Homo sapiens: one gene and its partners. The protein of the gene in region 3 purifies or fractionates together with the protein of the main gene of each other region. This does not show direct contact. Each region holds a gene or a part of one and is shown on either strand. Other genes may lie near its edges.

Evidence for each region.
Region 1: the proteins of P4HA1 (region 3) and PRPF39 fractionate together in Homo sapiens (co-fractionation; one large-scale study listed by BioGRID). This does not show direct contact.
Region 2: the proteins of P4HA1 (region 3) and ATP6V1A fractionate together in Homo sapiens (co-fractionation; one large-scale study listed by BioGRID). This does not show direct contact.
Region 4: the proteins of P4HA1 (region 3) and H2AZ2 fractionate together in Homo sapiens (co-fractionation; one large-scale study listed by BioGRID). This does not show direct contact.
Region 5: the proteins of P4HA1 (region 3) and HELZ purify together in Homo sapiens (affinity purification with mass spectrometry; one large-scale study listed by BioGRID and IntAct). This does not show direct contact.
Region 6: the proteins of P4HA1 (region 3) and SLC25A24 fractionate together in Homo sapiens (co-fractionation; one large-scale study listed by BioGRID). This does not show direct contact.
Region 7: the proteins of P4HA1 (region 3) and WDR33 purify together in Homo sapiens (affinity purification with mass spectrometry; one large-scale study listed by BioGRID and IntAct). This does not show direct contact.

Annotation. Positions count from the first base shown.
Region 1 is NC_000014.9:45,097,616-45,101,115, reverse strand, and holds part of PRPF39 (pre-mRNA-processing factor 39), read right to left. Parts: intron 1-3,500. UniProt on the Homo sapiens protein: Involved in pre-mRNA splicing.
Region 2 is NC_000003.12:113,809,296-113,812,556, reverse strand, and holds the end of ATP6V1A (V-type proton ATPase catalytic subunit A), read right to left. Parts: intron 3,223-3,261; coding exon 3,130-3,222; 3' UTR 501-3,129; downstream 1-500. UniProt on the Homo sapiens protein: Catalytic subunit of the V1 complex of vacuolar(H+)-ATPase (V-ATPase), a multisubunit enzyme composed of a peripheral complex (V1) that hydrolyzes ATP and a membrane integral complex (V0) that translocates protons.
Region 3 is NC_000010.11:73,044,867-73,048,366, forward strand, and holds part of P4HA1 (prolyl 4-hydroxylase subunit alpha-1 isoform 2 precursor), read right to left. Parts: intron 2,236-3,500; coding exon 2,059-2,235; intron 186-2,058; coding exon 115-185; intron 1-114. UniProt on the Homo sapiens protein: Catalyzes the post-translational formation of 4-hydroxyproline in -Xaa-Pro-Gly- sequences in collagens and other proteins.
Region 4 is NC_000007.14:44,845,288-44,849,533, forward strand, and holds the start of H2AZ2 (histone H2A.V), read right to left. Parts: upstream 2,801-4,246; 5' UTR 2,685-2,800; coding exon 2,682-2,684; intron 1-2,681. UniProt on the Homo sapiens protein: Variant histone H2A which replaces conventional H2A in a subset of nucleosomes. Nucleosomes wrap and compact DNA into chromatin, limiting DNA accessibility to the cellular machineries which require DNA as a template.
Region 5 is NC_000017.11:67,105,697-67,109,196, forward strand, and holds part of HELZ (probable helicase with zinc finger domain), read right to left. Parts: coding exon 3,420-3,500; intron 3,031-3,419; coding exon 2,796-3,030; intron 1,990-2,795; coding exon 1,473-1,989; intron 1-1,472. UniProt on the Homo sapiens protein: May act as a helicase that plays a role in RNA metabolism in multiple tissues and organs within the developing embryo.
Region 6 is NC_000001.11:108,197,544-108,201,803, forward strand, and holds the start of SLC25A24 (mitochondrial adenyl nucleotide antiporter SLC25A24), read right to left. Parts: upstream 2,801-4,260; 5' UTR 2,596-2,800; coding exon 2,413-2,595; intron 1-2,412. UniProt on the Homo sapiens protein: Electroneutral antiporter that mediates the transport of adenyl nucleotides through the inner mitochondrial membrane. Originally identified as an ATP-magnesium/inorganic phosphate antiporter, it also acts as a broad specificity adenyl nucleotide antiporter.
Region 7 is NC_000002.12:127,801,172-127,804,671, forward strand, and holds part of WDR33 (pre-mRNA 3' end processing protein WDR33), read right to left. Parts: intron 1-3,500. UniProt on the Homo sapiens protein: Essential for both cleavage and polyadenylation of pre-mRNA 3' ends.

The DNA of each region.
Region 1 (3,500 bases), on a different chromosome or scaffold from region 3:
GTAATTACACGTTTGGCACTGGCCAGGTAACAGAAAAATGGATGAACAGTACAGAGCCAAGAAAACAAAAAAGAGATCAATGTGTGTGAGTATTTGGTGTATGATATAGGAGATACTTTAATTCAACAGTGGGAGTATATAAAAGGCTAATGTCTATCTCACGACAGATAGAAATTAAATTCAGATAAATGAATAAGCAAAAAACTATAGAAAAGTTAGAACAAAATACAGGATTTATATATTTTTGGTAAAATAGGCACAAAACTCAGGAACCAGTAAGAATTAAAACAGAAGCACATTAAGGAAAAATAAAACTCCATATGATAAAAGACACCATAAACAAAGTTAAAAACATACCAACATTGGAGGAAATATGTTTAATATAGAAATAAAAGATTGAAGAGCATGTGTGTCTGTGCATGCATGCATGTGCATATTTGGTGTAAGGTTTTCAAAAGAATAAAATAGATGTTACTGTCCCTACAGAACCCCAAATGATTCAGAAAATTAACCAGACACTGAAAAAAGTATGGAGAAAAGGGGAAGAAGACAAGAAGGTAATGAAATGAAGACAGAACGTTTAGAAGAAGGTATACTTAATGAATCGTGAGAAATCTTCAACTTTCCCGCCCAGCTATGGGGATTTCAGAAGCTAGGTGTCCATTCCCCAAGTAAATAAAATTATCCTTTTCTAAACAAACTGCTTGGCTCAGGAATAAGATATAAGGTTACTATCACTGGGAATCCACCAGCAAAAAGAGTGGCCACATGATTACACTACTGTGAAACACCATAGGCCAACTGACAATGCCCCATACAAAACACACAGTGCTTCCATATGCTTGTGTTTTGTTTTGTTTGTTTGTTTGTTTGTTTGTTTGTTTTTGAGACAGGGTCTCGCTCTGTCACCCAGGCTGGAGTGCAATGTCACGATCTCAGCTAACTGCAACTTCTGCCTTCCAGGTTCAAGCAATTCTCCTACCTCAGCCTCCTGAGAAGCTGGGATTACAGACTCCTGCCAGCATGCCCAGCTAATTTTTTTGTATTTTAAGTAGAGACAGGGTTTCACCATGTTGGCCAGACTGGTCTCGAACTCCTGACCTCAAGTGATCCACTGTGCCTGGCTCATATAGCTTGTTAATATCTAATCTGTAATAGGAACAAAAATCCAGAGATCACATATCTCAGAGATGAAAATGGGTAAACAGAAAAATTTGAGAGGAAACCGTCCTGGGAACAGAGGAAAATCTCAACTATCCTTAGTATCATCAAAGAAATAACAAAAAGATATGCAGCCATGAAACAAGAATTGGAGAGTATAAAAAAAGGAACACTCAGAGAACAAGAAAGATTCTTGGATATTAAGAATCTGGGCCGGGCGTGGTGGCTCACGCCTGTAATCCCAGCACTTTGGGAGGCCAAGACGGGCGGATCACGAGGTCAGGAGATGCAGATCATCCTGGCTAACACGGTGAAACCCTGTCTCTACTAAAAATACAAAAAATTAGTCAGGCGTGGTGGCAGGTGCCTGTAGTCCCAGCTACTCAGGAGGCTGGTGCAGAAGAATGGCGTGAACCCAGGAGGTGGAGCTTGCAGTGAGCCGAGATCGAGCCACTGCACTCCACCCTGGGGGAGAGAGGGAGACTCTGTCTCAAAAAAAAAAATAATAATAATCTGATGGAAGATGTTAAAAATCCAATACAAGGGTCAAGGAAATACCTCAAAAAGCCAGACAAAGTCTAAGATATGAAAAATAGGAAGAAGAAAAGAAAAACTCAGTAATTAAAAGAAGAGGTCCAACATCCAACTATTAAAAACAACAGAGAAAATCAAGGCAAGGAAACTGTCAAAATAAGAATATCCATAATAATAACATTTCTAAGAATAGAAGGACATTAGAATCTCAGAATGAAAAGACTCACCCAATCACCCAATAATCACAATAAGAAAAAGAAAATCCACATCAAAGCTCATTTTTATAAAACTTCATTTACATCAGACCCAAAGAGAACATCCTAACAGCTTCCACAGAGGAAAAACACATTATAGAAAGAGAATCTATTCTGCAAGAATGGTATTGGACTTCTCAAAAGCAATAGCAGAAGCTATAAAGGAATAAATAATGCCTTCAAAGCTCTATGGAGAAAATAATTTTCAACTCCAAATTCTACAGCTTACCAAACCTTAAAATTATTTTTTCATCCAAGCATCCTTTAACAAGAAGTTATAGGACACACTCTTCTAAAAGTTGGACATGAAATCAAGAAAAGAGTGAGATCTAATAATAAACTCACCCAGAAGTGAGGTAAAGACATCTCCTAGAACCATGATGATAAGAAAATCCCAAGACAACTCTTGTACAGCAGAACTAGAAGACCAGTCCAGATTATAGTAGGAAGGTTTCCAGGAGACAGCTCAAAGGAGAGGAAAAAATGGGACTTACACATTTTTTAACAGATCTGATTGTATAGAAAGCTATATTTAAAGCCTTCTACAAAGCTGCTGGAGAGTATGAAAAAACCTTAAATGTTCAAAGAAAATTAGACAAACGGGAAAAATGAGGGGCAGGGGAGGAGCAATTAAAAACCAAAAAGGTTATAAAATGAAAAGACAGTATGATGAAAAATATTTATAGGTTTTTGATCTCTCTCTCTTTTTTTTTTTTTTTTGAGACAGGGTCTTGCTCTGTCATCCAGGCTGGAGTGCAGTGGCACGATCGATCTTGGCTCACTGCAACCTCCACCTCCCAGGTTCAAGCGATTCTCTTGCCTCAGCCTCCCGAGTAGCTAGAACTACAGGCATGCGCCACCATGCCCAGCTAATGTTTTTTGTTTTTGAGACAAGGTCTCACTCTGTCACTCAGGCTAGAGTGCAGTGGTGCAATCACAGCTCACTGCAGCCTCAACCTCCCAGGCTCAAGCGCTCCTCCCACTTCAGCCTCCCAAAGTGCTGGGATTACAGGTATAAGCCACTGTGCCCATCCTTATTTATGGATTTACAATGATTAAAAAAAAATACTGAAGCTGATTATTGAAACCTATTCTGTAGCTATATTGGAAAGATAAGGAATGAGAAAACAAAGTGTAAGTGGGTTAAAATTCTCACTTACCGTAACAGATACATAATGTCTACAGCTAACAGAGAAAGAAAGAAAGCAACATAGATCTACTGTTAAACACATGGTGGAAAATACCAGAAGAAAGAGCTAAAATATTTGAAGGGAGGTGGAGGTGGTACTTTTTGTTACAAGCAGTTTAACATTAGCTAACTTCTTAAGCAATATGCACATGCTTTTTTTTGAAAACCAAAAACAAGTACATTAGCAAACTACTGTAATCAAGAAAAAGATAATGTAATAGAAAAATGAGCAAATAATATCAACAGGTAATTTAAAAAATGGCTTATATAAGCATATGAGAACATGGTAAACCAGGATGAGCAATCAAGACATAAACAAATTAAAAGAGATGCCACTGGAGGTAAAACAAACAAAAAATGTG
Region 2 (3,261 bases), on a different chromosome or scaffold from region 3:
CAATGGTAATATACAGTTCTTTGACACTGCTTCTTCACTCCTTTGGAAATTGTTAAAAATACAACATTTAAGGAAATAAAATATATCCTACGTACCATAATGAATTGCTACAAAGGATGTTGCACATTGTTATATTGGACTTTAAATTGGCTTGCAAAATCATAAATTACAAGGCTTTAGTTTACTTGTTAAAAACTGAAGAGTACCACTGATTTCCTTGCACTTAGAAGTGAATTTATAGAAACCATTCACTTTCTCAAAGTAAAATTCAGAATGGGATGGGATTCTGTAGATTATATTTCCAAAACATAGTGTGATACAGTTATGGGACTTTTTGCAGGCTATAATGAGGGCTCCAATTCAATTTCATAATCTTAAGTAACAATCTATAAAAAAGGAAGGAAAAAATTTTAAAAGGTCATACCAAAACATTAAGTCAAGATACAAGGTACATATTTTCTAGCAGATTGTGCCATAAAAAAGAGAAAAAGAAAAAAATGTTAATTTAAATCCACTTTTTATTCTTTCACAGATTTTAACAATTATACACAACTTTTAACATAAAGGTAGTGAAATCTCAAGGATAAGGAGGCAATATATATGGCCTCTTCTATTCGTTATTCAGGATGGAAGGAAATTTTCAAAGTACAGTGTGTGAGATTCAACACTGGAAAAATACATATGAAACTTGTTTAATTGGCTCCACTTAGGACCAGACACAGCACAATAAATACAGAACTGCATCATCTTTTTAAAAGATCATTGTAATTTTAACACATTCTTACTAAAGAAATACATACTATCAGTGACCGATCTGAAACTCTGTAACAGGTGAAGGGAGACTTACGATGAATATCTGAGCATAGGTTCGCTAGCATCTTCACACTCATACATAAACATTCTTAAAGGGAATAAGAATGATTTCAAATTCAAAACAACAACAACAACAAAAAAACAAATTTGGTCAAACTTTCTTCATCATACCATTCATTGCTATCACAATCCTAGTTTGCTGGTAGGTTTAAGAAAGGAATAGAAAGTTTTTGAAATCCTTTTAATTTCTACCAGTCTTAGGGCCTCTTGAGTAGGCCACTTTGGAAGCAAACTGATTAAACAGCACCATCAAGTCCGTATCTCAACAAACCATTGCATAATTTCTGTCAATGTTCTCAAAGGTTAAAACAAGTTGTATAGAAGAATACCTTTCCTCAATAGCAGGCCACTGTAAAAACATGTAATCTGCAAGAATTTAAACAAAACTATCCTGAATTCTCTACTGATTGCTTCTTTCCTTAATAGACCAAGAGATAGGCATTACCTAAAAAATTAAATAATAATATACTGAGGCATAAAATAAATACTTTATTTATGCTATCACAATTTGGGTATTTGAAGATTGTTAGCCATGTTCACACACCCTTTCCTCTTCCCAAAGAGGAAGCAACGGTGCCAGCACTATTGGTCAGAAAGAGTTAATGGGAAACTGTTGCTCTCAGAGCTGTTCTGCAATATGCAGACACATAAATTATTATTTTAAACATATACTTAAAAGACGGATAAAATGATTTTTTTTCATGTGACCCAGATTCTGTTATCAGTAGATACAAAATTAATTTCATTCCTATTAGGATGGAAACTGGTATGCTGCTGTGGCCATAGATATTCTGAGAAACCTCTTAAGCCAGTGAACCAAAAACCATATGAAAGAAAGTAATACTTTCTATGATTGGTCAACTGGCTGTTCAAAAATTCAACAAGCAAACAAACATGCAAACATGTGACATATGTCATTATTTTGTAAAAACATAATGCCACTCTGGCCCCAGGAATCACTACAGCCCAGCTGGTCCTTAAAGGTGCAAACAGCCTTTAATTGCTACTAAACATCTTCTCTGGTATTTTACTGCCCATCACACTTGCCACATGATTCTCAGAAGCTTAGGCTTCCAAGATGTTTAAGGAAAATAAACAGGGTGTGATGTGGATCAAGTTTTCAGTGATTGTTTTAAGTGTCATTTTAAAAAGAACTTCCTAGTAATGAAGTATGTAATAGTCCTTGATATTAAATTTTTTCTAGTGAAATAAACTATGCTTTAATAAGACAATGTTGCTCTAAGTTTGACCGCCTGATTTTTTTTTTCTCTTTTTTAGAGGGTACTATTTCATATATTGTGTGAGCCCCACAAATGTCTATTTTAAAAAGAGTATAGTCCCTGGCCAGGCGCGGTGGCTCACGCCTGTAATCCCAGCAGTTTGGGAGGCCGAGGTGGGCGGATCACCTGAGGTCTGGAGTTCGAGACCAGCCTGACCAATATGGTGAAACCCCGTTTCTACTAAAAATACAAAATTAGCTGGGCATGGTGGAGCATGCCTGTAATCCCAGCTACTCGGGAGGCTGAGGCAGGAGAATCACTTGAACCCGGGAGGCGAAGGCTGCAGTGAGCCAAGATCACGCCATTGCACTCCAGCCTGGGCAACAAGAGGGACACTCCGTCCCCAAAAAAAAAATAATAAAAAAAATAAAAAATAAAAATAAAAAGAGTATAGTTCCCAATGGTTTCTCACAAACATTCCTGATTTATACTGGGGGAAGTGATGCATAATTGGAACATTAATCATTATGTTTTTGAAAATTAAATATTTCCTGCAAAGCAATTCCTTTGCAAAATGCTAAGCTGCCAATGAGCTTACCACAATAGAAATTGAGTCATTTCACAAAGTACCTGTTCAAAAGTTATAGAAACCTGGCCTTCCATTCCAAATTCACTGCAAAGAGAGTACATGCAGTAGTCCTGTTTACAATTTAATAGAGATGAGGAAAGGGTACACCTAGGACAAAGAGGGTCATCACCCTACATACAAGTTTACAGTAGTGTAACCAGAATGTATATTTACTATATTCACCACTTCAGATAAAGGAAGAGGGAGGCCCTTCACAACACTAGAACAAAGGAATGTTTGTTTTATATAAGACCTACCAAAAAAACAGGGAAACAAATAACACACATAGGCACTAGTCTCAAAGCTGCACAATAAAGAAGCAAAGGGTTTGAGATGAGAAATTCAGGAAAATATACACATAGGAGCTTGCTGAGGAAAAGGAAATCACAGTTGTAATCTTCAAGGCTTCTAATCTTCAAGGCTACGGAATGCATTCTGCATGTCTTCAAGAAGTTGTGCATAGTCGCTTTTGATCTTTGCCTCACCATCTTTCAGTGGATCCTGAAAGAAGACATTACAAATTCAACTCGCATTTGGAAA
Region 3 (3,500 bases):
GTGGTGACTTGAGCTGGTGACTGAAAATGACCCACTTTCCTTAAATGAATAATTCCTGTAAGATGTATAAAACACTCATTAGAGGGCAAAATATGCAGCATACACATCTCTTACCTTTTGCTAATTCTGTAATGTACCGTCTCCAAGTCTCCTGTTATTGGGTTTGAAATGGTGGCTCGCCTCAGCTGTGAAGCCAACCATCAAAATAGTTGCATTACAAAACAAAAAACTGAATCACATTTACCCAACCAGTCAGAATTCCAGGGTTTTTACAAAGGAGGCTAAAAAGAGAAAATAACTCCATACACTTCCAGTCACCTTGTGCTGAGCCTTGAAAGCCAGTTAGTTTTTTAGGTTTTTGGGGTTTTTTTTTTTTCTTCAATTTTTTGTTTTGCATAGATGGAGGACATACAAACAAAAGAGATTGGAAATTAAATTTCTTTCAATGGTGAAAGGACATGACAGTAAGAAAAAGAGACATATCTAAAATTTGAAGTCTAATTTACAGTTAAAATAGCCATCTGGGGGTGGGGAGAGAAGGGGAAAAAAAGAAGAATGCCTATTTGCAATTAATGATCCATTCCAAAACCTTTGACTTTAATTTTTTTTAGTGATGGAACTGTTTGCACAGGTTAATGTTTAAAATTCATTTTAAGGTCAATCTTTTGTCCCTTCAAGATAGCCACTCTCATTAACATATACAGTGAAATAATCTTGGACTGAGAACAAAGGCAGAGGAAAAGAGCTCATAAATGTTAAAAACAGCAAGAAAGAGGTGACCGCCTAGATAATAATTTCAATTTTTTTTAATGGAACGATGATTCTGAGGTTGTGAGAGCATGAAATTTTATTGCCATTAAATTTATTGATCAAAAACAATCCAAATTGAGGAATCTCCAGAATATAACTTGATCTCCAAGTTGAAATGAATTAATTACCTTGGATGGCACCAATAATATATATTAATGTTAGACCAGTCTTTTGCATTTATAATGTAATCTTTGGCCAAAAAAAAAAAAAACCACCAATTTGGAGAAGCAGAAAAACTCTAAAAGAAATTCTAACTTCATTTTGTAGTATAGATATCCAGATAATTCAAACCTTTGATATAATAAGGGTCAACAAACTATGGCCACAGACCAAATTCAGCCTGCTACCTGCCACTGGAAATAAAATTTTACTGTAATATAGCCACACTCTTTCATTTACATATTTTCTTTGGCTGCTTTTGCACTATAATGGCAGAACTAAATAGTCATGACAGAGATCATATGGCCTCCAAAGCCTAAAAAATATCTAATATTGACCTTTATGGAAAAAATCTGCCAACTCCTGTGTAAGACAGCAAAGCATGCCTAGAATTTATTCAACAATCTCTTTATGAAAGTGATGGCAGCTTGTATTTTACTATCAAGAAGACCAAATATGTTTTAAGAACAAGCTGATGGGGGAAAAGGCAAGAGCATAAAGGGTAGTCTTTTCCACATTCTCACTAAAGAGTTTTTATGCTCAACACTAAGCTTATAGATTGGGTTTACGTTAGATTCTTTTTCTTTTTAAGATAAATTCTGTGGGTTAAAGTCAGAAAACTATCACCATTTCAAATTAACATAATACTTGTGCCCAATTATATCTTTTTATAATAGTAACAATGTGCCTAAAAGGGAATAAAAATACTTCCACGGTATTCTTTCAGTAAAAATACAGAAGTGAAAAAGCTGGGCTTTGAGTAGCCTCTGAGATTAAAAGACTCCAAAATACAGAGAAAAGTTTATCAGGAAGACAGTGAAACACAAATTTGTTAATGGTGAATAAAAATCTCACAATAATTTTCATAATTCAGTGCTTAAAACCCAGTTAAGGGTACATTACTTGTGTTGATAACAAATGGAAAAACTGGCATAAACACAGCATCATTAGTAACTCCATTATGCTGAGGCAAAATATCTTTAAAAAATCTGTGGCATTATTCGTATATCAATTATCCTATTTTTTTACAAAGAAAAATTGATACAAAGGTACAGTAAATTGAGGAGAAAGAAAGAAAACATTATTTACCCTTGGTTTTGCTAGGTCTTTGACGATTTCAATTTCTGCATCAGAAATAATATCATGGAAGCGAATAATACGAGGCTTGTCCCATTCATCCTCCTGTTTAGCTGGAGCCAGAATAAATTTAGGATTACGGTTTCCATCATGGTAGCGGCAAAAGAGTTTTTTCTGTCTCCGAGGGGTCTAAACATAAAGTTAAGAATATGATGAATATATTACAGTAATAATACTTTTAATATCTATTCCTATGCAGATAAGAGACAATAATCATGCTTGCATATACAGAGTATCTCTGGAAAAACATACAAAAGAAGCAGTACTCTGCAAATATTTTGCCTCAAACAGGATGTTCAGAATTTTAAATACAGTATTAATGATTATTTTCTGGGTGAGAGAGGCGAGGTCTTAAATAAGGAGAAAGGTAGTGTATCTCTTTTAACCCTTCACTCATCAAAATAAAGTTCAAATGTTTAAATATGAAAAAAAAGCCATGTTTATGAAAATATTAAATGAATGCCTGGCATTGCTCTAAATGGCACAAAGTAACTGGAAAGCACCCAGAGACAAAAAGTTTCTAGAAGAAAAAAAAAACTAGGTTTTCCTAAATACCTCACAGTTAAATGCTTGTGGCAAAAAAAAAAAAAAAAAAAAAGGAATTTTTTTAAGGGCAAAATAAAAAATGGATAGCTCTGAAAAAGAAAAAATAAGTTATTAAACAAAGATCCCAGATGCTTTTATTAGGCAGTATAAAAATAGAGCAGTCAACAAAACAAATTCCCTTCAATCATCTATGTATTATATTAATAAGTTATTTTGTTGCCTACTTCTCTTAATTAAACAAGTATGTCAGGCCTGGCATGGTGGCTCATGCCTATAACCCCAGCACTTTGGGATGCTGAGGTAGGAGGATCACTTGAGCCCAAGGAGACCAAGATCAGCCTAGGTCACACAGCGAAATCTCGTCTCTACAAAAAATTTAAAAAATTAGCCGGACATGAGGGCACTTGCCTGTAGTCCCACATACTTGAGGGGCTGAAATGGGAGGACTGCTTAAGCCCAGGAGGTAGAGGTTGCAGTGAGCCATGATCATGCCACTACACTCCAGCCTGGGTGACAGAGCAAGAAGCTGTCTCAAAAAAACAAAACAAAACAAAAACAAGTATGTCACATAAGCAGGAATATGAGTAGTCTGTTTCAATTATTATACTAATAGTATACTAAAACAAATAATGATTCATGTTTATTCTCCATGCACTTTACCTAGAGTCAAATCCAAGGCTTTAATTTTTAGTAAGTCTTTTATATAATGATGAGATGAATGTAGCTATTCTGAGAAAAAGAATTTTTTGTTTTTGTTTTTGTTTAGACAAAGTCTTGCTCTGTTACCCAGGCTGCACTGCAATGCCTTGATCTCGGCTCACTGCAGCCTCTGCCTCCTGGGTTCAAGC
Region 4 (4,246 bases), on a different chromosome or scaffold from region 3:
GTAATTCAACAAGAGACTGATTTAAGTTTACCAGTAAGAACTGAGACGCTCTCTATTTCTACCAGAATGCCTCATATTTTAATAATTTTTGACTATGTTGTTATATAAGAAAAATACAATTTTTGGATTTTTGAGGTCAGCTCCACTAACAAGACAGTCTTACTTACTTCTCAAATAAAAAACCCTTGTTACCTCCATTTGCCCTAATATATAACACTTAAAAACCTCTCAACTGGCATCTAAAATTATAATCACTGTCTTCCTATGACTGGATTGGAAAAAATAAGAAGTAGTCACTAATAAAAAGCCAACAACTACAAAATTCCCCAGGCTCCCCAGGTCATATAATAACTACTCTGCTTAAGCAATTTTATCCTCACTGTTTCAGATATGTCATATTTGGTGTTCTATTTGCTTTTTAAGGAAGTAGACATACAGTCAGGTTTTAAAAGCCTCAATCCATTAAATGACTATTTCCAACATTTAGAGATTCCTGATACATTTCTCATACTTAACAAAAGAAAACTTTTATGGTATCAAACTTATCTGAATATAAAACTATACAATAAATGGATAATTACTTTCTTTCCGATATCCCCTCAAACTGTATATATAGCCTCCCTACTTTGAACATTCATTTTAATATAATTGGTGCTTGAGAACCCAAATCTAAATTTTTTAATTCCAAGAACTGACTTCGTATTAACCTGAGTTAAGGTTGTTGGTTTTAAAAAATTACACACACACACACACACACACACACACACACACACACAGAGAGAGACAGAGAGAGAGAGAGAGGAGGAAGTAGGAGTTCGTTCATTTTACTTGGATAAACTTGCAAACTGGATACTAAGACACTTTCATGTCAGTTTTAACAGACATCTGCTTACTTCCTCTCAGGTTTAAAATCTATCAAGAACGACAACTCAATGTCTCCTGCATTTTTAGCTTATGTTAATACTTATGTATTTTTAGCTACTGGTAAGTGGATATAAAACATATAGCGTATCACTAGAGATTGAAAAATATCTGAAAAACTAGAATTGGCCGTGCGCGGTGGCTCACGCCTGTAATCCCAGCACTTTGTCAGGCCGAGGGGGGCGGATCACAAGGTCAAGAGATCGAGACCATCCTGGCCAACATGGTGAAACCCAATCTCTACTAAAAATACAAAAAATTAGCAGGGCGTGGTGGCGCACGCCTGTAGCTATTCGGGAGGCTGAGGCAGGAGCATCGCTTGAACCCGGGAGGCGGAGGTTGCAGTGAGTGAAGATCGCCCATTGCACTCCAGCCTGGCAACAGAGTGAGACTCCGTCTCAAAAAAAAAAACCACAAAAAACCACAAAAAACAAACAACAAAAAACCAAAAAAAAAAAAAACCACAAAAAACTAGAATCATGAAAATCATCTGTTTGAGCAAATCCTTTTACAGATTAGATGTAAGCTGTACCTCAGTTTGATAAAGTACTATAAAGTACTTTACAATAACAATAAACTATACGTGAGACGTTGGAAGCAATTATCCCTAAAGTCTATTCCAGCTCTAAGATTTGGGTTTTTTACAATAACAATAAACTATACGTTAGACGTTGGAAGCAATTATCCCTAAAGTCTATTCCAGCTCTAAGATTTGGGTATTTTACAATAACCAAACATTGTCCTCTCGACTGGCCAATCTGTTTACAGTTAGGTGTTATGTCTATTCAATACCATATCTGTCACATCAAGCACAAGACAAATCATCTAATACTATCTGCAGTATGATAAATGACAGCTTGGTGCTAACTTTTAAGCAGGTAGCTCCCGTTGAAGTAACCTTTCAACAGAATGCTTAAAGCACGAATACCGGCAAAAATAAGATTCCATAACAGTCTTATTATTTTTACACAATCTTTGATGCAACTCAGAGCGTATCCTTTAGCACCTTCTCTTTTCCCCTCAACTTTAAAATGGGGCTGAAGTTCTATTCACTTTCATTTTTTTAAAGCCACACTCTTCTTATCTAGATCTGAATTTCAGAATGAAAAGATGAATACTTTAAGACTGAAAATCCATAGCAAGGGCAAAGGAAAGTACTGTTGTATAATGAAAACCGCAAACTGCAAGGGGCTCAGAAGATAACGGGCGTTCATTTCTAACCTGTGCAATCACCTAGAACAAATCGTGTGGTTCTGGTCTATAAAACCATTCTTTGTCGCTCAAAAGACCACAAATACAAGCACCCTTTCGCAGAAACCCTCAAACTGACTGCCAGGGAGATTACGTAACCAAACATCGCCAAAGACTTATCTAACTTGTACAGCGGCAGCCTGTTTGACCTCATTCATACAGAGAAGCGATCACATTAAGATCCAGCACTTGTTTCTACATTTCCAAGCCGGATTCTGCCGTCCTCCTCCTTCTAAGACGGGCGGTGCAGCGTCACAAGCGTCGGGACAGATCTATCCGGCTCGGAACAGACTTCGCGCTCTACCCGGCCAGGCCCAGCTCTCACCCGGGGACCCGTGTCGGGCTCCGCAGCTGGGACATGGCGCCCCCCGGCGGGCGGCGAGGGGCTCGGCCGGACGAAGCCCAGACACCCGCAAACTCCCGACTCCACAGGTAGCGGCGCCGACGCCAGGGCCTCCGCGCTCTGCTCTCCCAGGCCCCGTGCCCCCGGCCCACCCGGCCGCCCTTACCATGTTCTCGGCGCCGACTCCGCCTCCGCTCGGCCGCGCGCCCTCCCGCTGCCGACCCGCGCCGCCGCCGCCGCTCTCGCAGCACCGACCGCCGCCGCCGGAGCCGGACAATACCCCGTGCCCGCCTCGCGCTGCTGTGGCCAATGCCCGCTTGTCTTGCTGGTTCGAACCCCAGCGGCTGTTCAATCGCGCGCCTCCTTCTAGCCAGACCCCGCCCCCCCGGCACCGCCTTCCTAACGGCTGTTTGTTTTTGCACACGGCACGCGGAGGCGGGGCCTCCAGCCCCAATAGTGACGCGCTCTCTGCCTTTCACCAGGCGCCCAAGCCTGACGAACAGAAAGGCAAACCAATGAGATTGGACGCCTCGCAGACGAAAGCCAATAAAAATATCGCCCGCGAGCAAGGGAGGCGGGCCACTGGGAAGGACAGCAAAATTAGCTAATAAGGTGAAGCGATTGCAGGCGCTGTGGCTTTCCCGCCCATTCGCGGCGTTGGTTTTCCCGCTTCTGAGACTTGTTTGGGGAGGTAAAGAGTGTTGGACGTGCTTCTCCTGGTGGGTTTTCACAGACTGTGAGGATTTATTCGTCTTAGAACGTGTGGATCAGGAGGGCGCTGGGTTTCAAGGTTAGGCAGGCCTCATGCTCAGCCGTATTCTGGCGGACTGACTACCCTGACGTCCTCTCAGCGCGGACCCTGACAAGGTCCGCGGCAGGCTGAGGCGGGAGAATCGCTTGAACCCCGGAGGCGGAGGTTGCAGTGAGCCGAGATCGCGCCACTGCACTCCAGCTGGGCGACGCATCGTCTCAAAACAAACAAACAAAAACAAAAGCTATCAATTGGCTACATATTGTTATTTGTATGACAAATTCTTTTTCCTTTTTTAGAGATGGAGTCCTGGGACTACAGGCGCGCGCCCCAATGCCCAGCTAACTTTTGTATTTTTAATAGAGACGGGGTTTCTCCGTGTTGGTCAGGCTGGTCTCGAACTCCTGACCTCAGGTGATCTGCCCCCCTTTGCCTCCCAAAGTACTGGGATTACAGGCGTGAGCCACCGCGCCCGGCATGTATTACAAATTCTAAGAACACGAAGATAATGGGGCCGGCTTGGTGGCGCGAACCTGTAGCCTCACCTACTGTCAAGACTGAGACAGGAGGATCTCTTGAGCCCAGGAGGTCGAGGCTGCAGTGAGTCATGATCGCACCACTGCACTCCAGCTTGGGAGACAGAATATACCCTGTCTAAAAAATAATAATAAAAAAAAAGGTAATGGATGAGGCCGATAGTCAGGAATGAAATGACTTTAAACAATTGGGTATGCATGGGATTGGGTATGTGTGTATGTGGGGGCAGAGGGTGGGCATAACCGAAGTCCCATACTCATGTCCCTCTAGGCCTAATACATTTTGCAGACCTCACAGAGCTCAGACTGTTGTGAGCCGTTTTTCTTTTCTCAACCTCTTCAGTGTGTTTATTTTGCTTACATCATTAGGTTAAAATTTGGAGGATAACTCCCAGCTAGAAAGGAAGAAAAGCTCTAAAGTGGAATCGCCTTCCCCCGGAAGCT
Region 5 (3,500 bases), on a different chromosome or scaffold from region 3:
CTGAAAGACTGTCAGATGTGTGCCAAATTTTTGTAAAGTATGGTTCCAAAATTCTAGATCCTCACAATACATATATGTAGATACCAATTCATCTTTATTGTGCTTCTAACTTACTTTAAGAGCCTAAAATCACAGTAAGTTGTTTTAATGACAGCTATACAGAATGAGCCAATCAATGAATACTGGGACAATTTGAACAGACTGCCTCTAAATCCCTACAAATAAGACATACAGCTTTCCCTATGAATCTTGACTTTTAATTAGCATCTATAGCAGGCAACTTGTAAAATGTGAATCAATTATTTCTAATGGCCTTTAGATATCATTCTGAAACTGCCAAAATGAAGCTAATATCAAAAAAGTATTTTTCATATATCAAAATTAGAAATCTTTATCCTGATTTAAGATGTCTCTGTCTGATATGACTACAACCGGCTTTACACATTTTTATCTTTAATCACTGCAAATTTAATGGGATCAGCTAGACATTTTTGTAGCCTACACCACATGGTACTGCTTTGGAAGTTTTATAACCTGGAATTACTAAGTTTTTCATAGGAAAAAAAAGTCCATAAAGATGCTCTTTAGAAATATCTAAGTATTTTACTTTATTTATTTATTTTTTTTTTTGAGACAGAGTCTTGCTCTGTCGCCCACGCTGGAGTGCAGTGGCATATCTTGGCTCACTGCAAGCTCAGCCTCCCGGGTTCACGCCATTCTCCTGCCTCAGCCTCCCGAGTAGCTGGGACTACAGGCGCCCGCCACCACGCCCAGCTAATTTTTTCTATTTTTAGTAGAGACGGGGTTTCACCGTGTTAGCCAGGATGGTCTCGATCTCCTGACCTCGTGATCTGCCCGCCTCGGCCTCCCCAAGTGCTGGGATTACAAGCGTGAGCCACTGCACCCGGCAGAAATATCTAAGTATTTTAAGATAAAATTCAGTTTAACTTAAAATGCTTAGTTTAGCACAGTCAATTTTATGTTAAAAATCTGCAAATTCTGATATTTGGGAATCAGAGTCCCTGGGTCTAACAAAGCACCAGGCTGAGTGGCAGGAGAAGGAGCACAGCACTTGGAGCTGGCACTGGCTGAAAAGCCAGCATCTTTGGAAAGTTCTCATTAACAAATTTATAATTAACACATGTAACTTAAAGCGAAAAGAAGAATCACTAAAAGCCATTTCCTCAGATTAAAAAAAGACAAAGCTCCTTGAATAGAGTCCTCAGATATTCAATATTTTCTTTAAACAGCAATAAAAGACTTTTAAGGGGCTTCATGTTTCAACAAAAGTGTCCACTTTACAAAACCTGAAATACAATAGGAGGGTGGCAATTAAAATAATTCCCAAGAAAGGATTATCTTTAATACGCTGTTAAATTCAATAAGATCTGTGCCTTCCTATTATCAAATCAATAAATACTGATATTTTTCACAATCAGCTAATAACAAAAGGAAAATAAGAAGACATTTACCTCTTCTAAGCTAGGGAGCGAAGAAGAAGATACTGTTCGAGATGACAATGGGTGAAATGGCTCTTGACCAATAGCATGTTGATGATTCTGTATTTGTACAAAAGGGTTCTGCGGTGGCCTGTGAGGCAATGGAGGTAGGCCATAGGGAAAACCTGGCCCCATTAGGTGATTCTGTTGCAAGTTAGCAAAAGTCCATGCTCCATCAGGTGCCAGGTATTTCAAGGGAGGAGGGGCAAGGTGTTCAGATGGCAACGAGAAAGGTGAGTTGAATATCTGGGGTGGGAGGCGCTGTGGAAATGCTGGGTTGCTGGCTACTTCAATGTCTCTGCTGTTATCATTAAAGTTAGAAAAGTGGCTACTGTGGTCTGTACTGGATGGGGGAGATGGGACTGCTGGTGGGCTTCTACTCTGTACTTGTCTATATTGCAAAAGTCTTGATTGAGGTGGTGGCATTTCAGCTAGTTCCCGTGTTTCACTTTGATCACGATGAGACAGTTCTCTGATTAAGTCTTGAAACCTACATGAAAACAATAAAATATGAGGAGAAAACAAAAGGCTCCATCACATTAAGGAAAGCTTAGTCAACTACACATGTATTTTCAACAAACAAAATCATAGTACTAATAACTAGAACTGGCATTAATTCATCTCAGATGTAAGCATTAACACTCAATAGATGCTGAGGTGAAGAAATTAAATATGCTCAATTACCTGATTTCTTTCTGTTCCCATTGTATTAAAAACATCTGTCCTTGTCTCTATACAGCTTTGACAACTGGAAGTTATAAAAGGTCACCATGATGGTGGACCTTATTCAGAAGGGATTAGGAAACACTTCAGAGCATTCATGTGACACTGGCCACAAAAACAAGCTTAGAGTTAGGACCAAATACTCATATGTAGCTGGAATTATAGGAATGTAGAATTCTGTGCCACCATAAAAATAATTAATGATATAATTTTTAGCTTTTAACCACGAATTTACTCCTGTCTTTATTCATTCTTTGCAAGTATTACTACTAAATAAAAAAAGCTGCTCACAGTGATGGTATGTTTCTCTCGCAGAAAAGACCACAAAGTAAGGGAACAAGTTAATTTCCAACCCATAGTAGATCATCCATGCCTAAATTTGTAGAAGAGTTACTTCTAAATGAGTTTTCTGTATTTTAGAGTCAACAAGAGAACTGTGTAGCGTGTGCTTGGAAGGCCAGCATCCAATTTCTCTGAGGCAATATTCCAGCTTGAAGCTAAAAGGACTACAGTCAAAAAAGAGAACAGTGAGGGGGTCGCATTCCAGGGGCTATTTTCAGTCCGCTGGAATACCTTGAGTATGTGGTCTCCACTTCATCTTCGGCACTGCTGGTGAGCTTCCAGTCTGCCCTCACTGGCGGCTGATGTAATCCCAGGGGCGGCTGAGGAAGATGCTGGAGGTGAGGATGGTGATGGTGTGGGTATGGAGCGCTGCCCTGACTGAGAAAGGCATGATGCTCGCTCCACTGCTGGAACCGTGCCTGCTGCTGCCTTAATGTTTCCAGAGCGACACTCCCATGTATACGATCTGCAAAAATATTTGTGAAAAATTTTTTATGAATTTGGGGTTTCAAGTTCATTATTTAAAGTTTTTTACTAACATATTTTCTCCACAAAGACAAAGGACGTAGCTACAAATTTGGTTTTGGTAAGAAGTAAATGTTTTCTAAATTTGCCAGAAATCAGTTATGGTGATGATGATGACAACTCTTCCTCACTTACATAATGATGATCCTGACATCCACTGGATACTATCATACAGCATTTAGAACTAGTTTCTGATTATCACACTAAATGGGGGGGTTTTGCTAGCATTATTTGAAGAAACAATTCAATCTTAACCCAAAATGATATTATACAGTCCAAGTCATGTTAAGTAATCTCTGAATTTTCACATCTGGCAGTAATAGAACTTACCTAAAGCCTCCCCTATAGGTAATCCCGAGGGGTTCTCATCAATGAAGCTATTCAGATGTGAAGGAAGAATGGGGCCGGGTT
Region 6 (4,260 bases), on a different chromosome or scaffold from region 3:
ATAAAGGTTGACTGTGTAATCCTAATTCTATCCCATGTGTGATGGTTAATTTTATGTATCAACTCGTCTGGACTAAGGGATGCCCAGATAACTGGTAAAACATGATTTCTGGGTGTGTCTGTGAGGATGTCTCTGGAGGAGGGTAGCATTTGAATCAGTAAACCAATTAAAGAAGACTGCCCTCACCAAATGGGTAGGCATAATGCAATCCTGTGGAGGATGTGAATAGAACCAAAAGGCAAAGCAAGTGCTACGTTTTGTTTGTCCCCACAAAAACTCATGTTGAAGTCTGATCCCTGATGTGGCCGTGTTGGGAGGAGGGACCTAGCAGGAGGTGTCAGGGTTACGGAGGCAGATCCCTCATGAATGGCTTGGTGTCATTCTTGCAGTAGTGAGTGAGTTCTCTCTCTCATGAGACTGAATTAGTTCCCTCAGTAATGGATCAGTTCCCTCGAGGCTGGGTTGCTATAAAGCCAGGACACCCCTCGGATTTTGCTTCTTCACACATGTCCACTTCCACTTTGACTTTCCACCATGTTGTGACACAGCAGGAAAGCCCTCCCCAGGAGTCCAGCAGATGCCAGCACCACGCTTCTTAAACTTCCCAGCCTGCGGAACTGTGAGCTAAATAAATGTCTTTTCTTTATAAATTACCCTGTCTCAGATATTCCACTATAGCAACACTAAATGGACTAAGACAGGAAATGAAAAGGAATTTCACCTGCAGAATAGGAGACTTTACAAAGACTGATACCCTGAATGAGCGAGGATGTGGAGAAGCAAGCACTGTCAGTCAAAAGAGTGAAAATGGGTCTAAGGTTTCCGAAAGGCAATACGTATCCCAGTTTAAAATGTGTGTTACCTTCAGACTCAGCAATGTCCACTCCTCAAAATTTATCTTACGAAAGTAACTGGACCAGAATGAGAAAATGAATACAAAGGACATCCATTGCAATTTCACTTACAATCGTTTTTAAACTATCAATAAAGTAAAAGGTGATTTAAAAAGAATTGGTAACATATACTATGACACAAACATATAACAGAATATGATGCAGTTACGTAAAAATGGTGATACAGCAGCAATTCTCAAGCTTTTTGATCTCAGGATCCCTTTACAATCTTAAAAATCATTGAGCACTCCAAAGAGCTTTTGTATATTGTAGGGACCATGGAGTTGTACCACTGAGATCTCCCTTCAAAGGCACCTACTGTGAGGAACACAGTTGACTTCCACTCTCTAGCCTCTAACCCTGGCATCTGCTGATGCACTGCAGCAAGGTCGTCCCTTTCCTGGGCTGCTTCCAGCCAATGATTGGACATGGTGGGGAACTCCAACTGGGCCATTTCTGGGACAATCAGCACAAAGTACCAAAAGTTGGTTCCTTCAAAGTATGAATAAAATACACAAAACTTTGGCAAGATTGAAGGGGAGAAAAGGATAGATATGAGGAATGAAATAGAGAACCTACCTACAGATTCAGTCAGAAGTGTTATAAAATCATCGGTGAGTATTATGAACCTTGGACAGAACAGGCAGTTTCAAAAAAAATTGTAACTTACTAAATCTGACTCTAGAAGAAACAGTAAACTGAAGAGGCCTATAACTACCAAAGACATTAAAAGAGAAGTGAAATATAACTATATAACAGTTGTTGGCCCTCATAGTAACCTAATCACTTTCCCTCTTTGGATAAGAGAATGCCAGTGTCAGGGAACGCTTCAACAGGGTTGGAGAAGTTCCACATATCTCCACCCTACTAAAGGGGCAGAAGTTCAGGGGCACAGTTAAGATGACTCAGAGAAAATGAAATTGCTCAGTCGCAGGTCAAGTCAACCCTTCAGATCAATTTATGTACCTAGGGCATTAACCTAGGAATGTCTTAAACAATGGAATGCCGCCATTCCTTCTCAACAGGAAGTGGGGGAAACACGCGATTGGTTTTCAAACAGTTTTCAAACAGTAGACAATACACATAGCTGCTGTAACAAAGCAGCTTCGAAAGAGATCGAATGTGTGCGCCTTTATACAAAACTTGGGACCCACTGAAGTCTGACAGCTAAAACGGATTACATGTCTGCAAGGTATTAAAACAGAAAACAAAGAACCTGGGATGGATTCAGGACAAAAGTGTCTTAAAAATTTAACAGTGCCCGTGGGCCAGAGTGTCCACAACACTCATTTTATCTGGACAAATACCAGTAGACTTTCGTATTATGACCCACTTCTGTTACCGGGGTCGCCGGTCGCGGCCCCACGCCCGAGTTTCTGAAGCCACCGGAGCGCTGGGCGCCACAGTTCCTCCTTCCTCTCCTGGCAACGCCTCAAGCCGCCGCCCTCCTCGGTCCTCGCAGTGTCCCCAGCGCCCGCAGCCCTCCCTACGCTCAGGCGGCGCCCCGGCGGCGACCCACCTCCTCGGCGTCCTGGCCCAGAGGGATGCCCAGGTTCCTGAGCCCCTCCTGCAGCTCGCCGATGTCCACCACTCCGTCCCCATTGCGGTCCAGTGCCTGGAAGAGGGTCTCGTAGCGCGTCGGCTGCTCCGCGTCCTGGCAGGCCGCGGTGGGCAGCACGAAGTCCCGCAGCCAGCGCAACATGGTCCCAGAGGCGCAGGCGGCCTGGCCGAGGAAGTCACGGGAGATCGAGGGCTGCGGGGCGAGACCGGGACCAGCGCGAGGCCGGGCTGGGCGGGGCGCGCGGCGCAACAGCGTTTGGGGCGCCGTCGGGGTTGCGGCTGCGGCGCGCAGGGCGCAGGGCGCAGGAGCGGAGACCCCACCCGAGCCCGCGCGGAGCGCAGGGTGTGGCCGTCCCGCCGCTGCTGGGGAGGAGCTCGCCGCGCTGGCCTCGGCGGCACTGGCCGGGCCCGCCTCCAGAGAGCCGGAAGTGAGGGAGCTGGGAGCTGGGTCTCGGGAGGTGCTGTGCGGACCCGGGGTCGACCTCTGCCCAGTTGCCAGTCCCGCTGTCAGCATGCGGGTCCGAGGAAGAGGCCCCCAGCAGGTCCAGGGCTGCAGCGTCAGCGCGTCGGTGGCTTGGGAGCGGGGTCTTGAAGACTGGTTACTCCACTTAAAGACCCTCTCGGGCCGGAGCCTTGGCGGTCAGCCCAGAGCTGCTTCTCTCTGCCTGGAAACTGGGCCATGGAGGGCATTGTCTCTCACGGATGTCTAATTTTTTCGTGGTTGCACACCTGGGATGGCGATTCTGCTTTAAAAAGCAGAGAGTTAAATCCTAAAGCATCTATTGGAGCAATTATAAAACAAAAAGGAGAAACTCCTGGATTTGTTGCAGAAAAGATCAACAGCCATCTGCGTGGGCAACGGGGAAAAGAAGGACTAGTTTGGTAGGCAGCTTAGCTAGGATTTGCCCGTGATTAAGCGTATAGAGTGTCTGCCAGCTGCACTTATCAGAAAAAACCACAGCGCCCTCCTCCTTCTCAAGATGGGTGCAGTTCCGAGGTTTGGAGCTTATTACTCAGGCAAGACAGAACTTATTACTGCCTAGCATGGAATAACGGAAGGAACATTGGACTTAACAGAGAAAGTACCTAATCCTTCAGGTGTGACATAGCGTCTCCGGGTAGTCTCTCATCAGTAAAATGAGAATATAAATATCTGCCTTCACAACAAAGTTGTATATTAGGTGTGAAAGGTCTTAATTCTCTAAGGCGCCAATCAAATGAGATATCATTAATTGTAATAATCCTGTTCATTCACAGCTGCGTAAGAGGAACTATTGTTGTACTGCTGTTTGCAGAAAAGAAGATACCTCTGTACTTGTAAATTAGGGTGTCTCACATCTTCTGAATCACTACACAGAAATCAGTTCCAACAACAGCCAGGAACTCAGACCCTGAACTTACCTCTCCTCATATCATTTTGTATGTTTAAGATATGTATGAATCTAGAATTTGTAAATTAAGGGCTGCCTGCTTAGTAAAATCATCTTGAAACTGATTTATCTTTTTATATTACTTCCAACTTCCAGTCTTATTAAGAATCATTGCCTTCCTTTGGAACTGCCTTCAAACTTCAAATTTTCTCTGTCCTTGAAAACCTCTTTTAATCTCTACTCTGAATACTCTGTACTTGAAGAGAGGTTGCTTGAACTAGTCATCTTACACTTACATGCTTTCATTTTACTTTTTATTTATTTCTTTTTTTTTTTTTTTTTTCTTTGAGACAGTCTAGCTCTGTCGCCCAGGCTGGAATGCAGTGGCACAATCTCAACTCACTGCAACCTCCGCCTCCTGGGTTCAAGCTATTCTC
Region 7 (3,500 bases), on a different chromosome or scaffold from region 3:
CGCTCGGGAGGCTAAGGCAGGAGGTTTGCTTGAGCCCGGGACGTTGAGGCACAGTGAGCTATGATTATACCACTGTACTCCAGCAGGGGTAACAGAAGGAGACCTTTTCTCAGAGGAAAAACACACACAGACACAGAAAATAATAACTGTTGGTAAGAACATGAAGAAATTGGAACCATTGTGTACTGACTGTAAAATGGTACAATGAGGCTGGGCATGGTGGCTCACACCTGTAATCCTAGCACTTTGGGAGGCCATGGTGGGAGGATCACTTTGAGGCGAAGACCAGCCTGAGCAACACAGTGAGACTCTGTCTCTAAAAAACAAACAAACAAACAAAAAACACACAACAAAAAAAAAAAAAACAGTACAATCACTATGAAAAACAGTATAGAGGTTCTTCAAAAATGTTAAAAACAGAATTACATTATGAGCCAGGTGCAGTGGTTCATGCCTATCTCAGGACTTTGTGGAGCGGAGGCATGTGCATCACTTGAGGTTAGGAGTTCAAGACCAGCCTAGCCAACATGGTGAAATCCCATCTCTACTAAAAATACAAAAAATTAGCTGGGCGTGGTGGTGCACACCTGTAGTGCCAGCTACTCGGGAGACTGAGGCAGGATAATTGTTTGAACCCAGGAGACGGATGCTGCAGTGAGCCGAGATCGTGCCACTGCACTCCTGCCTGGGTGATACAGTGAGACTCCATCTCAAAAAAAATGGTTAAGGCCAGGCACAGTGGCTCCTGCTTGTAATCCCAGCACTTTGGGAGGCTGAGGCAGGCAGATCACTTGAGGTCAGGAATTCCAGACCACCCTGGCCAACATGGTAAAACCCCGTCTCTACTAAAAATACAAAAATTAGCCAGGTGTGGTGGCATGCACCTGTAGTCCCAGCTACTCAGGAGGCTGAGGCAGGAGAATCACTTGAACCCAGGAGTGAGCTGAGATCACGCCACTGCACTCCAGCCTGGAGGAGAGAGCAAGACTCCGACTCAAAAAAAAAAAATTAAGACAGTAAAATTTTGCTATGCATTTATCACAATTTATAAAAAAAAAAATCAAGTGTCACAAGCATATACAGCATGCCAACTTTCTTCTAAGAATGTGAAAATAAGAATATACACAGTAAAAACTGGAATGAACTCCAGAGCTCAGAGACAGAAGCAAGACTTAACTACTTTTTCTTCAGCCTCCGTCTCCTGGGTGCAAGCAATTCTCCTGCCTCATCCTTCAGAGTAGCTGGGATTACAGGCATGTGCCACCACGCCTGGCTAATTTTTGTATTTTTAGTAGAGATGGGGTTTCACCATGTTGGCCAGGCTGGTCTCAAACTCCTGACCCCAGGTGATCTGCCCCCCTCGGCCTCCCAAAGTGCTGGGATTACAGATGTGAGCCACCACGCCCAGCCAGTACTTTTTCAATATAGTATTTAATTTTATTCCTTCTTGGTCACAGGTGCTTAAAAATTTTTTTTCAGTAGATTTTAAACCATGTAAATAACGTATTAAAAAAACTAAATTACGTCTGGGTGCAGTGGCTCATGCCTTGTAATCCTAGTATTTTGGGAGGCTGAGGAGGGAGGAACCGATGACCCCAGGAGTTCGAGCCCAGACTGGGCAACATGGCAAAACCCAGACTATACCAAAAAACACAAAAAATTAGCCAGGCATGGTGGTGCGCACTTGTCGTTCCAGCTACTTGGGAGGCTGAGGTGGGAGGATCACCCAAACCTGCGAGGTTGAGGCTACAGGGAGCCAAAACTGCACCACTACACTCCAGCCTAGGTAACAGATTGAGATCTTGTCTCAAAAACAAACAAACAAAAAAACTAAATTAAGAGGGAGAAAAAGCAAACCCTAATAATGAATACAAACAAAAACTGTGAAATTTGATAATCAAAATAAACAAATTCAACAAACAAGCTGAAAAATGTTATTTCAAGTAACTTTTGAAGAAAGTTCATCTTTAATGCAGTATACGCTAAGAAAAAAAAGGACTGGAAAAAAAACTGCACTTGGTAGGGTTATTGTTAGTAAAATACTGGCATTATAAATCTGACTCTGTTTTCTGTGTAGAAAATGCCACTAATGTTAACTTTGATTAGGAATTTAAAATACCAATGTAGGCCAGGCACAGTGGCTCACGTCTGTAATCCCAACACTTTGAGAGGCCAAAGTGAGCGGATCACTTAAGGCCAGGGGTTCGAGACCAGCCTGGCCAATATGGTAAAACCCCATCTCTACTAAAAATACAAAAATTAGCCAGACGCCTGTAATCCTAGCTGCTCGGGAGGCTGAGGCACAAGAATCGCTTCAACCCAGGAGGCAGAGGTTGCAATGAGCCAAGATTGCACAACTGCACTCCAGCCTAGGTGACAGAGGGAGACTGTCTCAAAAAATAAATAAAATAAAATACCAATGTAAGCTGATGATTTTTAATATCATGTTTTCTAGCTCTGTCCACTGAAAAGGGCATACAAGCAAATGCATACACCACCAAGCATCCAAATCCTGGTTTATAAATAATATTTTCTACCAAAAGAACTGGGACTCCTTGGAGAAATGGGAAGATACAAAAGGAAAGGAAAAGACAAGAAGGACTTGGGTTATTGTTTTGCCAAAAAAGCAAAGGAGCCCTCAAATTAACTGGGGTTAGTGCCAGGTGCTTGGGAGACTGAGGTAGGAGAATCACTTGAGCCCAGGAGTTCCAGGCTGCAGGCAGCTATGATCTTGCCACTGCACTCTAGCCTGGGCAACGAAGTGAGACCCAGTCTCAAAAAAAAAAAAAAAAAAAAAGACCAAAAGCAATAAGGGCCAAATACCTGCTCCTGCTTAAAGACTAAAGAGATACGAAATATCTAGATTGGGACCGGGTGCGGTGGCTCACACCCGTAATCCCAGCACTTTGGGAGGCCGAGGAGGGTGGATCACAAGGTCAGGAGATCGAGACCATCCTGGCTAACACGGTGAAACCCTGTCTCTACTAAAAATACAAAAAATTAGCCAGGCATGGTGGCGGGCGCCTGTAGTCCCAGCTACTCGGGAGGTTGAGGCAGGAGAATGGCGTGAACCCGGGAGGCGGAGCTTGCAGTGAGCCAAGATCATCCCAGCCTGGGAGACAGAGCGAGACTCTGTCTCAAAAAATAAATAAAAAAAGAAAAGAAATATCTAGATTGGATACTGGATTAGAGAAAGAAAAATTCTGTGAGATGTTACTGAGACAACTAGAGAAATTTGAGTATGAATTTTCAATACTATATAAATGTTCAATGTCCAGAATTAGTTAATATTGCGGGTACTTAACTTGTTCTTGAGCAGAGAAGTGCGGAGAAGTGCATATCTGTGAATAACACTAAATGGCTCCGAAAATAATACATGAGGGGCTGGGAGGCAGGAAGGGAGGAATAAAGCAAATGTGACAAAATGTTAAAAATGGGTGAATCAGAATAAAAAGTACATAGGAGTTCTTTGAACTATTCTTCCAACTCTTCTGTTAGTT